2 separate regions of the Homo sapiens genome follow, and region 1 is linked to region 2. Evidence: fine-mapped expression QTL. A gene starts in region 2. The other region holds a variant in brackets. All regions are shown on one strand. Distances are between the middles of the regions.

Region 1 (8,332 bases), 30 kb after region 2:
ATGGAGTCTCACTCTGTTGCCCAGACTGGAGTGCAGTGGTGTGATCTTGCCTCACTGCAACCTCTGCCTCCCAGGTTCAAGTGATTCTCATGCCTCAGCCTCCCAAGTAGTTGGGATTACAGGCACGTGCCACCACATCTGGCTAATTTTGGTATTTTTAGTAGAGATGGGGTTTCACCACACTGGCCAGGCTTGTCTCAGACTCCTGACCTCAAGTGATCCACCAGCCTCGGCCTCCCAAAGTGCTGGGATTACAGATGTGAGCCACCATGCCCAGCCTCTTTTGAGTTTCTGATTAGCCTCTCCAAAGGAGGCAATCAAATATGCTTTTATCTCAGTGAGCAGAATAGAATGGGAGGCAGATTTGCCCTAAGCAGTCCCCAGCTTGCCTTTTCCCTTTAGCTTAGTGATTTTTGGGGCTCCAAGATTTATTTTCTTGTCACAGGCCAAACTTAAAATATTCCAAGAGGCAGCTTTAGGCTAAACTTGATTTAACAGTGATCAAATTATCTTTTATTGGCCCCATGTTTCAGATGAGAAAAGGGATGTGAAGAAAAGTAGGATGAGTCGCCTAAAGTCACATGGTGAGTGTGCCAGTCATCTTTCAATGCTTGTTCTCAGCTCAATTTCTCACACTGACCCTGCTCTACTCTTTATCACAGGAGTTGCATAGTTCAGGCTCCCTTCTTGATTAGATTGCATATGCTACTGGGTCATGGGAGGAACCAGAGAAAGGGTAGAAAAGGGAGGAGGGACAAATCAGAGAATACCTGCCACCATCACCTCCCCACCTTTCTTTCAGGCCCCACGTCCAGCAGAGGTAGTGTCTCCTTTTCCTGCTTGAGTTCTTGAGTATGACTTCCCTTGGACACCTCTCCCCTCCATGGTCTCAGTTCTCACCAGGCTGCCCCTGCTGCCATAATTCTAGCTCCCTCTGGATGATCCTGGGTTCTGGTCTCTGGTAGCAACATCTACTTCTTGTGTGCTGCAACCCCAGAGGTGATAATGGCTTTTTTCCATTGCTAATTTCTGAGTTGCCCCATTATCCCCTGTGATGAACTGAACTGTTCCCTCTCCCCCACCCCAAATTCATATGTTGAAGCCCTAAGCTCCCAATGTTACTGTATTTCGATATAGGGCCTTTAAGGAAGTAAATAAGGCTAAATGAGCTTTAAGGGTAGGACCCTGATCTGATTGGATTAGTGTCTTTATAAAAAGAGACACTGGAGAGCTCACTCTTGCTCTGTCATGTGAGGACATGATGAGAAGGTGGCCCTCTGCAAGCCAGGGAGAGAGCCCTCACCAGAAACTGACTGTGCTATCACCCAGAGCTTTCTGTCATTTAAGTCACCAAGTCTATATTTTGTTATGGCAGCCCACACTGACTAGAGTTGAATTTGCTTCTTACCTTTCCCTTAACTTGTGGTATATTTCCTTGTATTACATTCCATTCTCTCTGGAGCTCTTAGAATGTTCTTTCACCTCCTCCTCCTCCTCCTCTTTGTCCTCCTCCTCTTCCTCCTCCTCCTCCTCTTCCTCCTTCTCCTCCCCTTGACTGGCCCCTAACATGCTAAGTCCACTAGGAAGTTTAAAACTGGAAGTTGAACCAAGATCTAATTGGACATCAAAATCTGTGTTCTTAAAAGCTACACTGTACTTTCTAGATTGTTTTGGTTGTCTGAAGAGATTTGAGGAACAGCCAAGTAAATAATATGAAAGAGGCTCTGTTTGATTAATGACACTAAGAGGGATGGAAATGGAAAAAAGTTTCAAGTTTTCAGTGGTTCTAAATGTGACATTTTAGACCCATCCTTTGTAATGACAGGCTGGAGGTTGGGGGTCTCTGTGGAGAGACAGCATTCCAGTTAGTGGCCCTGCTGTCATGGACAGCAAGAGGGGTAGGGATATTGTACTGATGGAATGTGGACATTGGTGTTCCTTGACAGTATCTTGAATGGTATCATGATATGGCATGCCAAGCCCTGAAATATATATTAGCTTGGCAGTGAATATTTATGTTTTTCTTTTCTGATAACACATGGAGTTATAGGCTGTTAATGTGGGCAAGGTACATGTCTTTAATGTTGTTAACTATTCTCATTCTTTGACAAATCTTTCATTTCTCCCAAGCAATATCTTGTTCACATCTGTTGCCAGAAAAAGGGATTCCAATCCAGACCCCAAGAGAGAGTTCTTGGCTCTCATGCAGAAAGGAATTAAGGGCAAGTCCTTGAGTACAGTGAGAAGACAGAGTTTATTGAAGCTGCTCAGTAACAGAGTAGGCCATCCTCAGAAAGCAAGAGGAGGAATATGCCATCTTTGTTTTAAACTCTCCTTATGTAGGGGTCTTATCTATGTAAAAGTAAGCTATGTCTATGTTTAGGTGGACTGAGAGCATGACAACATTTATTACTTTGTTGACTTAAAGAAAGTTTTACTTGGCATTTTAGTGAGTAAGTACATCAAAGCATGACTATAGCTATCATAAAAGCACACACTGTTATGTGATAGTGTATCACATAACTTTATCTTTAAAGTTATGGGATCTTTAGTGTATCACTTTTCTGGCCAGAAACCTCTGTGGCTGGAGGCACCTTTGCCTGAGTTCTTATCTTGTGTACAGGAAGAATGAGGTATGCTTACAAGTAGAGGGTGAGCAAGACAAAGAGAAGCTTTATTGAGTGTTAGAACAGCTCGGAGGAGACACACAGGGGGCAGCTCCTGTCTGTAGGCTGGTCATCTGATTCAGTGTTCAGCTCTCAGCAGAGGGGAGGCCCTGGAGTGGGTGGTTCCTCTCTGCAGGCAGGTGGTCCTGTTTGGTCTGCAGCTCTCAGCAGAGAGGAGGTCCTGGGGAGGTTAACTCCTCTTTGCAGCTGGTTGTCCTGTCCTTTGCTCTGTTCTGGCTGAGCCTGCGGCTTTTACAGGCCTCAGAGAGGGGAAGTGCATGCTAATTGGTCCATGGGCAGCCACGAGTGGGCCTAGGATAAAGCACCATGAGTTCCCCCTCCTTTCTACAGGACTGGCAGCCCAGCCTCCAGGCTTCAGGCGTGCCCTAGCCTGAAGGTGAGGCTTCATTGGGGATCTACCCACTTCCACCCAGGAGCCTGTCTGCCTCCCACAACCATCTATTGCACCAAGGGACACCTGCAGGGCAGCACCTAGCTGCCCTCAGCTCCCCTCAGCTTCCCCTCTCATGCTCCTCAGCTGATCAGCACCCAAAGTCTGGAGGGGGCCAAGATGGCAGGAGGCTGGCATGTCAACACTTCCCCAAGCATGTGCATACACAGCCAGGTTGTGACAGCACCTGGGTTTGGCCCCAACTCTGGTCCGAGATTGAAGCGCGTGCCAGGGAGAGGCCAGGCAGCAGGAACAGTCACTTCCAAGCCTGCAAGTGCAAGAGTGCAGGGAGGCCTGGGTCTGCAGCCTTGGTTTGGGTGGCTGCACCTACGCAGGGTGGGGGGTGGGGTTTCTGTGTGCTCCTGGCTCCCAAGAGAATAGGGGTGCCTGGGCTGCAGCTGTGACTGGGGCGGCTGCAGTTGCACCTGGAAAGCTCCCCCTCACCAGGCACGTGACCTGGCCTGGCCCTATCTCAGCGGCCCCAGGGCAGAAGCTGCTGGGGGGAGGGTGCTGTCTGCCTCCTCCTGCGCCCTCCCTGTAGTGGCCAGTGTGATGGCAGATGGCTCACTGCTGCCATCAGTATTGGTACATCTGGACATTCTGCTGTCACAGAAGTTTGTCCTTGCTGTCATGACTAAGCTGCTTCCTTAGCCATAAACATCTTATGACCATGGGTTGTGACTGGTGAGGAATGTGCCTTGCTAGTTTTAAGATGGAGTTGATTTTCAAATGATGGCACCCTGGCTCTCATGTGCTCCTTTTCCCCTAACACTTCTGTCCACCAAAGTTGAGGAGGAAGCATATACTTTGGGTGACTTCATTCACTTTTCCTTCCTTGGCCTTACTTTTTCATATGTCTCGATGGTGATTTTGAAATTCATGTGTTTTCTTGAGCAAATCCTGTAAGCAAATTCCTGACAAAGAATTGGCAAAGCAGTTTGCTAATTGCCAATGAGAAAGTGTTACTTTAGAATCATTTATGGCATATTTAATGGGTGGCTGATGAAGAATGGAGATCGGCATTAGCTCTGCAAATGTCATGGACACACGATTTCCTTCTAATGGTAATATTCATTCGAATATGCCAAGGGAATGAACTCAGTGGGTGGACATGGTCAACTGCTTTCCCAGGAACATGGTGATTATTAAGCTTCATAATCAACAATGCCCAGCAAAGGAAATTTAATCTCAAACTATGATAGTAACAGATGACAGTGCGTAGGATGTGAAAGTGCCATACAAATTTGTCCAAATTTCTAACATGTGACATTCAAGGCATTCTTTATTAGAACTGTCCAAACCTGTCTAATTGCTGATGCATAGAAATAATTTCTCTTGATGCTTAATCACTTTAATCCAGCCTAAATACTTCCTTCGTTGCTATCGCTGAAGAACAAAGTGTCAATCAAAGGCGATAGGCAGATACATGTTGCTGCTCCCCATGAAACTGGTTATGTGTTATGGGTGAATAACTACTAGAAGAAAAACTTATTTGTTAGGGCATTGTCTACTTAAGAATCTGAGAAATGGAAAAATAGAGACATGAAATAGCTCATGCGCCAATCAGAATTTTAATTTATTTTATTTTGTAAAGAAGATACCACAAAATAGTGTTATATATCCAGGCACAGATTAGTGAAACCTAGACTGTAACCTAGGGTAACTCATTGTTGAGTTTAAAATTCCTGCCATCTATATAGCAATGAGTTTTAAAGTAACACTTCCCCAGATCAGTTAATTTTGACATAAATGAAAAACTGGAGAATGGGGACTACTTGAGACTGGCTCGGCTCAACAGGTAGAAGGTTCATTCCAAGGGTGAACA[A/C]GTGTAGTTACATATGTTTGCTGTTTTGTCTATTAAAGTATAAAGTAGAAAAGTCATGGGTTTGATATAAAAAAAGCCTGGGTTTATTATGCCCAAACTTCTGCAAAAAAATGGTGTTAAAAATAATACCTGCATGTATGTTTGTTATGAGAAATCATGGATTAATTACAGGTGATGTGCTTAGAAGAGTACCTGGTAGGTAGTAAACTCAACAATGGTCACTACTGCTATGAGCTGCTTGGATTTGGACATGGCCATCTGTTTTAGTCCATTTGCGTTACTCTAAAGGAATATCCGAGGCTGGGTAATTTATGAAGAAAAATGGTTTAATTGGCTAACAGTTCTGCAGGCTGTATAAGCAGCATTTGTGCTGGCATCTGCTTCTGCTGAGGTTTCAGGAAGCTTACAATCATGGCAGAAGGCAACGGGGAGCCAATATATTACGTGAGAGTTCTCGAGCAAGAGAGTGAGGTGGGAGATGCCACACATTTTTAAACAACCAGATCTCATGAGAACTCACTCACTGTGGCAAGGACAGCACCAAGTTATTCATGAAGGTTCCGCCCCCATGACCCAAACACCTCCTATCATGAGATTTGGAAGGGACAAATATCCACACTATGCTACCTTCATCTCTCTGAAAGTCCATTCTGGGGAAAAGGGAAGTAGGATTTATATGACTCCCTGGAATTTGCATCAGTGGGTGAACGTTACAGGGGATCAGAGATTAGAACAATGTAAAGAAGTTGGACTGCAAACAGTCCAAGTTATCTGTTGGGATGGCTTGCAGCAAAGTAACTTCCCTGTCACTGTAGATATTCAATTATAGGTTAGGCAGCTGCTTTTTAGGCATAAGAAATGTGGGTTAAATATTATCAGCTAATTCAACCTTTAGGGTTTTATGATTCTGAGTAGCATATATATAGTAAGTAAAGTTTAGTGCGAAGGTATCTACTCTTCTACTTCTTGAAGCTTTGCTACAGGTTTAATTTTTGTGTGTATCTCTTATTGACATGGTAATTAATATACATGGCTATTTTAGTTATTACTTGTATTTATTTGTTTATTTTTATTTATTTATTTATTTTGAGATGGAGTCTCACTCTGTTGCCCAGGCTGGAGTGCAGTGGTGCGATCTCAGCTCACTGCAAGCTCTGCCTCCCAGGTTCATGCCATTCTCCTGCCTCAGCCTCCCAAGTAGCTGGGACTACAGGTGCCCACCACCATGCCTGGCTACTTTTTTGTATTTTTTAGTAGAATCGGGGTTTCACCGTGTTAGCCAGGATGGTCTCGATCTCCTGACCTCATGATCCGCCTGCCTCGGCTTCCCAAAGTGCTGGGATTACAGGTGTGAGCCACCACGCCTGGCCAGTTATTACTTTTAAAACGAATATTAATGACGGCAATGAAAATTTACCACTAATTAAGTGCCTACTATTTGTCAGACATTGTTATTCTGTGTCTTATATTTGTAATTTTATTTGGGGCCACTGAGAAGTCCAGTTCAGAAGTAACTAGGCAGCCATAGTTAGAAAGAAATCTGGGGAAGAGGGAGGTCAGTTTTCTATTTCTCTTGCTGATATTCATACATTATATACTTACATAGATAAAAGTAAATTTTTTTTTTTTTTTTGAGACAGGGTCTTGCTCTGTCACCCAGGCTGGAGCACAGTGGCACAATCATGCTTCACTGCAGCCTCGACCTCCCAGGCTCAAGCAGTTCTCCCACCTCAGTCTCCTGAGTAGCTGGAATACAGGTACACGGCACCATGTCTGGCTAATTTATTTTTCTTTTTATTTTTTGTAAAGAGCAGGTCTCCCAGTGTTGTCCAGGCTGGTCTCCAACTGCTGGGCTCATGCGATCTCCTCCCACCTCACACTCCCAATGTGCTGAGCCACTGTTTCCCGCCCAAAAGTTAATAACTTTTAACTTTTTGTTCTTCCAAATGTTAGCACACAGTATTTTAAGTGCAAATTCTCCTTAAGCTGAATTACTGTTTTTGGATAAGAGTAAGTTTTTGACATATGAATCGAGGAAGATATAAACGCATCATCACAGAATTCAACATACACTTGAATTTTCCAAGTTAAAATGGGAGGTGTGGAGGTGTTGTCACTTGTATAGAGGGCCCAACCTTCTAGATCCCAGGGCAAAGAAGGCTCTTTGTGCTATACTCCGTGGTTTCAACTAATCTGTGATTTTCCAGAAGAGATGATGAGCAATTACAATTAAGCATATTCCAAAGCACTAATGCAAACCAGTAATTTTACCCTCCTCACCGAAATTTATTTGAAATTTGAGAACCAATAGGAAAAGGAGCCCTTTTCAGTCCTTATCTCTTTTTGTTGTCAGGGTTTACTCTCTTAGGAATGTGAGAACACCAAAAGTAGAACCTATGATACTTGAAGTTGGCCCCTGACTTGTGATCTTGTGATCTCAATGCAGAATCAAAAATTCCCGGTGTTTGCCTTCTGGACACAATGTTGTCACTCGAATTCTGGGGCCCTTGATTTTCTGTTCTCCTCCCACTACCCACCTCACCCACCCACATACAAAACAAGACTATAGCATGGGCCTATGTAAGTGGTCCTTCCTACTTAGCCCTTTAGAATGATTATGCTTTTCATAAGCTTAAAAAAAAGCCTTTTTATGTAGTCGGCTGTTAATTTTTTTTCAACTCTGTTCTCTTCTAAGATAAGAACGCTAATTAGAGTTAGGGAATGATTTAAGGAGCATTACCTAAAATGAATACCTTATTGAAGATATGATGTGGTAACTTTTCAAAATACCTCAAATAAGTCAAAGAGAATCCTGAAAGCCCTGCATTATGGTGTTGAACACAGTTAGCATGGATCTGGGAATTTCATGTCTTCAGAGGCCTAGCACAAAAATATTTCTCTCTCTTACTCTTAATATGGTTTTAAATAATTTCCATCAATAAACTTTTTTTTTTTTTTGACGCGGAGTCTTACTCTGTCGCCCAGGCTGGAGTGGAGTGGCACGATCTCAGCTCACTGCAACCTCTGCCTCCCAGGTTCAAGCAATTCTCCAGCCGCAGCCTCCCACGTAGCTGGAATTACAGGTGCCTGCCTCTATGCCGGGCTAATTTTTGTATTTTTAGTAGAGACGGGGTTTCACCATAATGGCCAGGCTGGTCTCAAACTCCTGACTTCAGGTGATCCGCCCACCTCAGCCTCCCAAAGTGCTGGGATTACAAGTGTGAGCCACCACGCCTGGTCAAGAAACTTTTAAGCCCCATGATTATGTAGATGGATTCTTGGGTGTCTAAGCAGCCTATATAGATTAATGCAATGAAAAATGCAGCGATTTTCCACCCAAATTCTCTATATGGGTAATGAAATTATGTGTACACTGATGAAGAAATATAT
Region 2 (8,332 bases):
CAATCTAAATTTTATATAGCCACATAGCACACTTTATGATGCATCGCTTCAAAATATGGTGCTGTAAAATAGACATACTTGATAATAAAATGGGAAAAGTTTTCTTTCAAACAAACATATTTCCCAAGAGATGAAGGAGACTCACGTATGATTCCTGTCGTGAGCAAAATATACAAAGAAATAAACTGGCTACAAGAAACAGAGATGAAAGATCTTTGTGATTTCAACAAGCTATACATTTCTGTTGACTTTATTCATGCTGCTTTGGAGAAAGTTAAAGACTTGCAGAAAGCATTATAAACTCCAATAATGAGGTGTTCAGTGCCAGCATTTTTTTCTTTTATTCCTTAGAGCAACTTTTAAGGGCACGTTTCCAAAGAAAACCCATTTACAAGGGTGGAAAATGAAGATACTGTAATCAGAAAAAAAAAAAAAGTGGAAGTCGTGATGTGGCCATTTTAAAGAGTTAGGTCAGCTAATTTGCATTTTAGCTTATTAATTCCTGAAAGGGTGTTTTGTAAATTGATGTTTAGAGTTGCATGTAAAATGTTACAGTGCCAGTTATGTGTCATGTTCCACTGGCCACACCCATTTTATTTTACATTGGGATATTTGAGAAACCTACAACAATCATGTAGTTTTTTGCTGCCACTAGCTGCCCAAATGGAGCATGCTCGTTAATGGTTTCCTCATGGTGCAGAAGAATTCAAATTGGTGTCCCCAAAGCAGGATAGGTTTATTATATGCACGCTAAACTCTGCAGATGGCAGACTTCGCTTATCAAATTCCACAGAGACATAAGGAAGCAGTAAATGCCAATGGCTGCAGTTTGTGGAATGAGTAGAACCCTCAGTCTGGAAGCAGGTGGAGCTTAGGTTTGAAGGAGCTGTGTGAGTTGGCAAATTACTTACTTCTCTGGGCCTCAGCTGTTTGCTCTGAATAATAGTGACCATCTCCAGGTGATCTTGTCATTATTCAATACAAGATAGCAAATGCCTGTCATATAGCAGGTATCTTGCATGCATTTATTTACTGGGTTTCCTTGCATCCACGTACCGATGCCAGCTTTGGTGACACTGATGTATCTACCTGGTGGTGAGATGGATGGAGACTCATCTGCTGATCGGCTGTTCTTTTTCTTTTCTTTCTTCTTTTTTTTTTTTTGAGATGCAGTCTCACTCTGTCACCCAGGCTGGAGTGCAGTGGCGCGATCTCAGCTCACTGCAACCCCGCCTCCCAGATTCAAGCAGTTCTCCTGCCTCAGTCTCCTGAGTAGCTGGGATTGAAGGCATGTGCCACCACACCTGGCTAATTTTTTTGTATTTTTAGTAGAGACGGGTTTTCACCATATTGGCCAGGCTGGTCTCGAACTCCTGACCTTGTGATCTACCCGCCTCGACCTCCCCAAGTGCTGGGATTACAGGCATGAGCCACTGCGCCCGGCCGACTCATCCGCTGTTCTGTCCTAGGACTTCTGCCAGAGCTTATTGGTGGTAGGAGAACTTGACTTTTTTGACTCTTGGACTGAGGCTTTTCATGGGCCCTACCCTAAAGCTGACCTTTTCAAAAACACATGCCAATACAGAACTTCCTGCTTTCTCAGATGGCTTTAGAATAATAAAATGAAAAGTCATCAGTCGCCAGGTCCCATCTATCTGAAACTTTCAGGCTCTGCTGGCACTGGAGAAGTAGAATGTTTTCAGTGGTTCTAAGAGTTATGCCTTATGTTTTTTTTATTATTATTACTGTGAAGATATTTGCTTTTTAACTAAATGACCTGGGACAGTTCTTTGGAGGGTTACAGAAGTATTAGGGATAACCAGAGTGGTAGGAATTCTGTTAAAGGGGTCATCAACATACTTCCATATTTTTAATCTCCCAGGAGCATGTTTTGTTGATAGCCCTCAACCAAGTTCAGGTTTGCAGAGAATATGTTTAAAGGGGAATAAATGCATAAGGGTGTGACAAGACTCAAAAGCCTCCTTCTAAAGAGACTGCGACTCTACTACAAACAGCACTAATCAGAAACATTTATGGTGAGGGAAAGAAAAAGTCAATATATATATTCTACCTAAATAGGTTTTCTAAAGTTGTTCACTTTGCTTTGCCACACAAAGCAATGCCATGTGTGCTTTTAGAGCAAAATGCTGGAAAGAGGATTCAAAAAGGAGGATGACTGGACAGAATATTAAAGAAGAGGCAGGCACCTGGCAGAGGAAGGCTGAAGATAGAGTAACCAAAACTCAGACCCCGGCTGGATTCGGGAGTCCTGCAAAGCAAGGCTGTCGTGGAGTATGAGGTGGCCAGGCCAGGAGATATTTAAAAAGACCAGAGATCGATAAGCCTAAACGCTGTGGATCTGCCCCTTCCCCCACTCTGTGGGCCGGGTTCAGCACAGGAAAGGGTCCCATTCTCACCCTTTGCTCCTGTGTTCCTCTTTTTTCCAGCTACCCAGGGGACGGCAGGCAGCAGGTGCCCCAATGGTTTCTTCTCTCTGAAGCATCCCTCTGCAGCACCCGCCGCCCCTCTCCTTTCTGGGCAGCCTCCTCTGCAGTCAAAGGCTTCAGGGAGGAGCCGCGGAAAAAAAGAAAAAAAAAAAAAAAAAAAAAGAAAGAAAGAAAGAAAAAAAACGCTGATGGACTTAAGATCTGAGGGTGACCTGAAACTCCGGGGAAAGACAGCTGGCACAAAGGAAACGAATTCATAAATACCTGAGAGTGTGTTTTATGCAGACTCACACACACTGAGTGTGGAACAATGAGGTTTGCAGGGAGCAGGTTAACAAAATAATCCATTCTGCCATGCTTCATCTACATATGGGTAATTGGGAGGAGACAACTCTATGGCTTATCTGGGTCCTTGTTCCACCCTCCGCCTCCAGAGAAGCCTATTCCACCCTTGAATTTCATGAGTGAAAAGACCAAGGATAGCTAGGCTATGAAAAGTCAACAGAGTAAGTACCCTACCAAACCTGCCAGGGACAAACAATATTCAGGACAGCCTCATGACCTTAGGCTTGAAATCTAGAATATTTGGGCATGGATGGTCCTCTGAGATCACTTAGTCTTGATAGATTTAAACTACTAATTTCAATATTTGTGAATTTGCATTATTTGCGACAACAGACATTGTTTAGAAACCCGAGGAAAGTTATCTGCTGCAGTCTATCATGAGGACGGTGGGCTATCACAATCACAGGTATTTTTTTTGGGGGGGGGGATGAGAAAGGGCCTCTGAGGATAAGCCTCACCCCATCCTTTCCTCGGGAGAGGAGTGAAATGTCTCCAGAAGCAACTGCACCACTGCAAATACTTCACCCTCCAAGTATCACAGGGGAAGCCATTCCGGCTTCTCTATTTGAAAACAGTTACCATATTCCCCCTCAGTTTGCCTCTTAAAAAAAACATAAGTTGCACATCAAATGCTGCGATATACAAATAAAACAAAAACTAAATGCTTGCTCAGATAAATCTTAGGTGTTTCGTGTAAATCTCTGCAATCCCTCCATGAAACCTGGGGGACTCCTAACATCATGCGTGTGAAAATGCCCTGCAAACCGTAGGGTTGTATCCACGTGCGCTACCGCGTGCGCCAGTTTCAAGCATCTGGGTGCTTCCTGAAGGAAATCCATGCATTCCTGACTGCATCTGTTTTCGGGTTATTACATTGTATCGGGGGAAGAGTCACGCGGCTATGGCTATTTTCTATCCGTTCCTGAAGAAGCCTGGGTGCCGAGTTCTCCTCCCCAGAGACCACACCCAGCGCTCAGGGCTGGCCGCAGCGGCTTCCCTGAAAATCAGCCAACTGCAAGGCTTATCGAAATCATCAGGTCGTGTGCTACACATGTGTAAAAAGAGGAAAGCGGACTTTAAATGTGCTGCGGTTGGTGGTAGCAAGCAGGAATTTAGCTTGGTGAGGATCCAGGCAGCTTGAAGCTCCCGGCTGCGGAGCGCGCGGCTGCCTCAGCAAGTCAGTCTCTGTGTTTCCAACTCTTTCTCTGCCCTCCACCACCCACACACTGCAACACGTTAAAGCCATCTGCGGCTTCATTCTCAGTTAAGAAATGTGAAAATCTAGAAACACTAACAGGCGGATTAACTGCTGTAAAGGTTTAAAAATGCTAAACCAATACCTGCAGTAGTGCCGCAGTTTCACGAGTGTGTGTGTGTGTGTGTGTGTGTGTGCGCGCGCGCGCGCGCACTCGCGCGCACATTCCCTATGTGTTAAGCAGCTCATTAAAGAAAAAGAAAAATAATCAGGAGAAAGGAAGATGAATTGCAGAAAGTGCCAGAAAGCTAGAAAGAAATTAAAACTCTTCTCCATACATACTGCATACACATAACCTAGCCTATTTATTTGTATCTAAAATTCCCTAGCCGCACCATCACCGTAAACACCAAGGGAAAAAATTAAGGAGGTTCCTGGTGGGAAAAGGGCGAGTTGGGGGGACAGGGTGTCTGCGAGGTGACGGGATACAGAAAACTAGGGTGTCAAAAGGGAGCAAGAACCTGTTTTGGGGGCAACTTAAGGATCCAAGTGTCACGGGGTCTGGGCAATGCAGGACGGGAGGGGCTGCGTGAGTGAGTACAGAAGGGAAATGAGTGAGGGGGCATGGGATCTCAGAGAAAATCAGGGCCCTCTGAGCAAAGTGGAAAGGACGACCGCCGCAGCTCCTCGGGCCGTAGCTCGACCCCGCCTTCCCTTTTGCGCAGAATCCTCGCCTTGGCTGCAGCAGCGCGCTGCCCCCACTGGCCGGCGTGCCGTGATCGATCGCAGGCTGCGTCAGGAGCCTCCCGGCGTATAAATAGGGGTGGCAGAACGGCGCCGAGCCGCACACAGCCATCCATCCTCCCCCTTCCCTCTCTCCCCTGTCCTCTCTCTCCGGGCTCCCACCGCCGCCGCGGGCCGGGGAGCCACCGGCCGCCACCATGAGTTCCTTCAGCTACGAGCCGTACTACTCGACCTCCTACAAGCGGCGCTACGTGGAGACGCCCCGGGTGCACATCTCCAGCGTGCGCAGCGGCTACAGCACCGCACGCTCAGCTTACTCCAGCTACTCGGCGCCGGTGTCTTCCTCGCTGTCCGTGCGCCGCAGCTACTCCTCCAGCTCTGGATCGTTGATGCCCAGTCTGGAGAACCTCGACCTGAGCCAGGTAGCCGCCATCAGCAACGACCTCAAGTCCATCCGCACGCAGGAGAAGGCGCAGCTCCAGGACCTCAATGACCGCTTCGCCAGCTTCATCGAGCGCGTGCACGAGCTGGAGCAGCAGAACAAGGTCCTGGAAGCCGAGCTGCTGGTGCTGCGCCAGAAGCACTCCGAGCCATCCCGCTTCCGGGCGCTGTACGAGCAGGAGATCCGCGACCTGCGCCTGGCGGCGGAAGATGCCACCAACGAGAAGCAGGCGCTCCAGGGCGAGCGCGAAGGGCTGGAGGAGACCCTGCGCAACCTGCAGGCGCGCTATGAAGAGGAGGTGCTGAGCCGCGAGGACGCCGAGGGCCGGCTGATGGAAGCGCGCAAAGGCGCCGACGAGGCGGCGCTCGCTCGCGCCGAGCTCGAGAAGCGCATCGACAGCTTGATGGACGAAATCTCTTTTCTGAAGAAAGTGCACGAAGAGGAGATCGCCGAACTGCAGGCGCAGATCCAGTACGCGCAGATCTCCGTGGAGATGGACGTGACCAAGCCCGACCTTTCCGCCGCGCTCAAGGACATCCGCGCGCAGTACGAGAAGCTGGCCGCCAAGAACATGCAGAACGCTGAGGAATGGTTCAAGAGCCGCTTCACCGTGCTGACCGAGAGCGCCGCCAAGAACACCGACGCCGTGCGCGCCGCCAAGGACGAGGTGTCCGAGAGCCGTCGTCTGCTCAAGGCCAAGACCCTGGAAATCGAAGCATGCCGGGGCATGAATGAAGCGCTGGAGAAGCAGCTGCAGGAGCTGGAGGACAAGCAGAACGCCGACATCAGCGCTATGCAGGTGCGGCACGGCCAGAAACACAGGGGGGCGGGGGACTCGAGCAAGGGGGGGAGTTGGTGCGCCCAGAAAGTGGAGACCAGGGGTGGTGCGGCTGCACGCAGCTCTTAGGGATAGGGCTTGGCTCCTTGGCCACTGTGTGGGAGGGGTGGGGCACTTGAAGGGCGTGAGTGCGGGCGCCACTGTAGTCTGGGAGTGTGCTCCGTGCTGCTGCACCGGCGTTCCGCATTAAAGCTGCCCAGCCCTTGTTGGGTGGGGGAGGGGAAGACGTGGGAATTGGGCGTTGCCTCCGGCCTGCAGTGAGATCAGCTCTCTACTGACCTGCATTAACCACAAGTTACTTTGCAGCAACTATCGGATCATCTAGTTAATAAATAGTAGAGTGAACAACTCTCAATTAATTCTGAAGGATTACTGTGACCAGCATGCTTTATGACTAGTTTTACCAACCACTCCCTTCCTTTATTTAGTAGGTAGACAGGAAAATAGTCAACATTGTTTTAGGTAGTTAACTAGTGATGTTCATAGTAAACCATTTCCTTTTACCTTTTTTTTTTCTTTTTTTCTTTATGTGTAAAATCTTCTACAACATTTCTGTTTAAACATCTCCATCTTCTGGGGAGTAGAAAAAATACAATTTTAAAAAGATCTCCATTTTAAAACATCTCCATCTTCTGGGGAGTAGAAATTTTTTTCTTCTTCTGGGGAGTAGAAAAAATAATTTAGATACATAGGAAATATTTCATAGAAAATAATTTTTTTCTTTTTTTTGTTTACATCTGGCTATTTTCTTCTCATAAAGAAAGGCATTAGTTTCCTGGCATGTAACCCAGCTAAAGAAGAGTTAATCAGTGAATGAGAGACACAGTTTTTCTATCAACTTAGTCTGTTTGCATGCATTTTATGATGATCATTAAACAGTATTAAGTAAAGAAACAGAAGAACAGAATTTTCGTCCATCTTTTTTTTCATCTCAGGCTTCATGAACTTGGGTATTTTAGGCATGAAGGTTTTTCAAAAGATACAGGAAGTTATTCTAGGAGAGATTTTATCAAAGGTGTGCACCTTGATTTTAATCGAAACTAGGCCTTTGCAACTACACTACAGTAAAATAATAGAAGGGATTTATGCTCGGATTTTTTTTTTGTTTTATTTTTGTCTTCAAACAGGACACGATCAACAAATTAGAAAATGAATTGAGGACCACAAAGAGTGAAATGGCACGATACCTAAAAGAATACCAAGACCTCCTCAACGTGAAGATGGCTTTGGATATTGAGATTGCAGCTTACAGGTGAAAATAGAGGGGCAAAGACAGCAGCCATTAAACCTTAGGAAGAAAATCAGATCCCATTTAAAGTTATGTTGGATCAGAAACCTTCAATAATAGTCCTTTTGAAATAATGAAGTGTTAGTTTTTGGCTTCTTCCAAGAAGAGGGTATTTAGATATATAAGAATTTAACCCTGTAATTAGGAGTCCTGTTTTTATCTTGTCATTACACTTTAAATCTAATAGGATGATTTATTTATATTTTTTCTGGTCTCCATCAAAAGATCCCCAGGCATTAAGTATTGATAAATCCCAGCCCTGCTCCTGCTTGCCTTTGTGTTTAGGGTACTCAGAGCAAGTTGTGAAACACAGGTGTTTTTTAACCTCACCTTGCATCTGCATCCCCAGGAAACTCTTGGAAGGCGAGGAGACCCGACTCAGTTTCACCAGCGTGGGAAGCATAACCAGTGGCTACTCCCAGAGCTCCCAGGTCTTTGGCCGATCTGCCTACGGCGGTTTACAGACCAGCTCCTATCTGATGTCCACCCGCTCCTTCCCGTCCTACTACACCAGCCATGTCCAAGAGGAGCAGATCGAAGTGGAGGAAACCATTGAGGCTGCCAAGGCTGAGGAAGCCAAGGATGAGCCCCCCTCTGAAGGAGAAGCCGAGGAGGAGGAGAAGGACAAGGAAGAGGCCGAGGAAGAGGAGGCAGCTGAAGAGGAAGAAGGTATGATAAGAAAAAACCCCTGCAACTTCAAGTGTAAACTGGGTGTGGAGATTTGTTAGGAGGTGGATAAGACAAATGAAGCCTTGCTCATTTATTCATATATGACATTAGAATCATAAATAAATTTTCTGTTTGTTTAGCAAAACTTTCCTAAGGCATCTACTCTGAATGAGGTGATTGGTCAAAATTTTCATTTTTTAATATAATCATTTAACACAGCAGGTTGGTGTCCTAAAGAACAAAAATAGATACCAGACACATAATGAAAGAAATATTGAGGTTAAGTCTTGGAGAGGAGCAGAGCTTCCCATACCTAGAAGTGATCTCATTCGATTTAAATATGTGTTCAGTGGCAAATTATTCA

Alleles and levels. Positions count from the first base shown, and alleles are read on the strand shown. Sizes are in standard deviations (SD) of each study's normalised expression.
With allele A in place of C in region 1, the expression in esophagus mucosa of the gene that starts at base 4,832 in region 2 is higher (large effect, 1.3 SD a copy in GTEx).

The links. PIP is the estimated chance that this variant, and not a neighbour inherited with it, causes the effect. A credible set is the group of variants that fine-mapping cannot tell apart.
Region 1: its variant is the best candidate, but not a certain one, in a credible set for the expression of NEFL in esophagus mucosa (GTEx, PIP 0.63).

Annotation. Positions count from the first base shown.
Region 1 is chr8:24,922,957-24,931,288 of GRCh38, reverse strand. It overlaps LOC112268023 (a long non-coding RNA gene), which reads left to right and starts at 6,579. Exons shown (of 3, transcript XR_002956698.2): 1 at 6,579-6,699. The variant A/C (reference allele first, on the strand shown) is at 4,943.
Region 2 is chr8:24,953,112-24,961,443 of GRCh38, reverse strand. NEFL (neurofilament light chain) reads left to right here and starts at 4,832. Exons shown (of 4, transcript NM_006158.5): 1 at 4,832-5,972; 2 at 7,139-7,263; 3 at 7,649-7,968. The coding sequence starts at 4,929. It overlaps MIR6841 (microRNA 6841), which reads left to right and starts at 7,577; the gene lies at 7,577-7,648. RefSeq lists an enhancer at 6,082-7,281.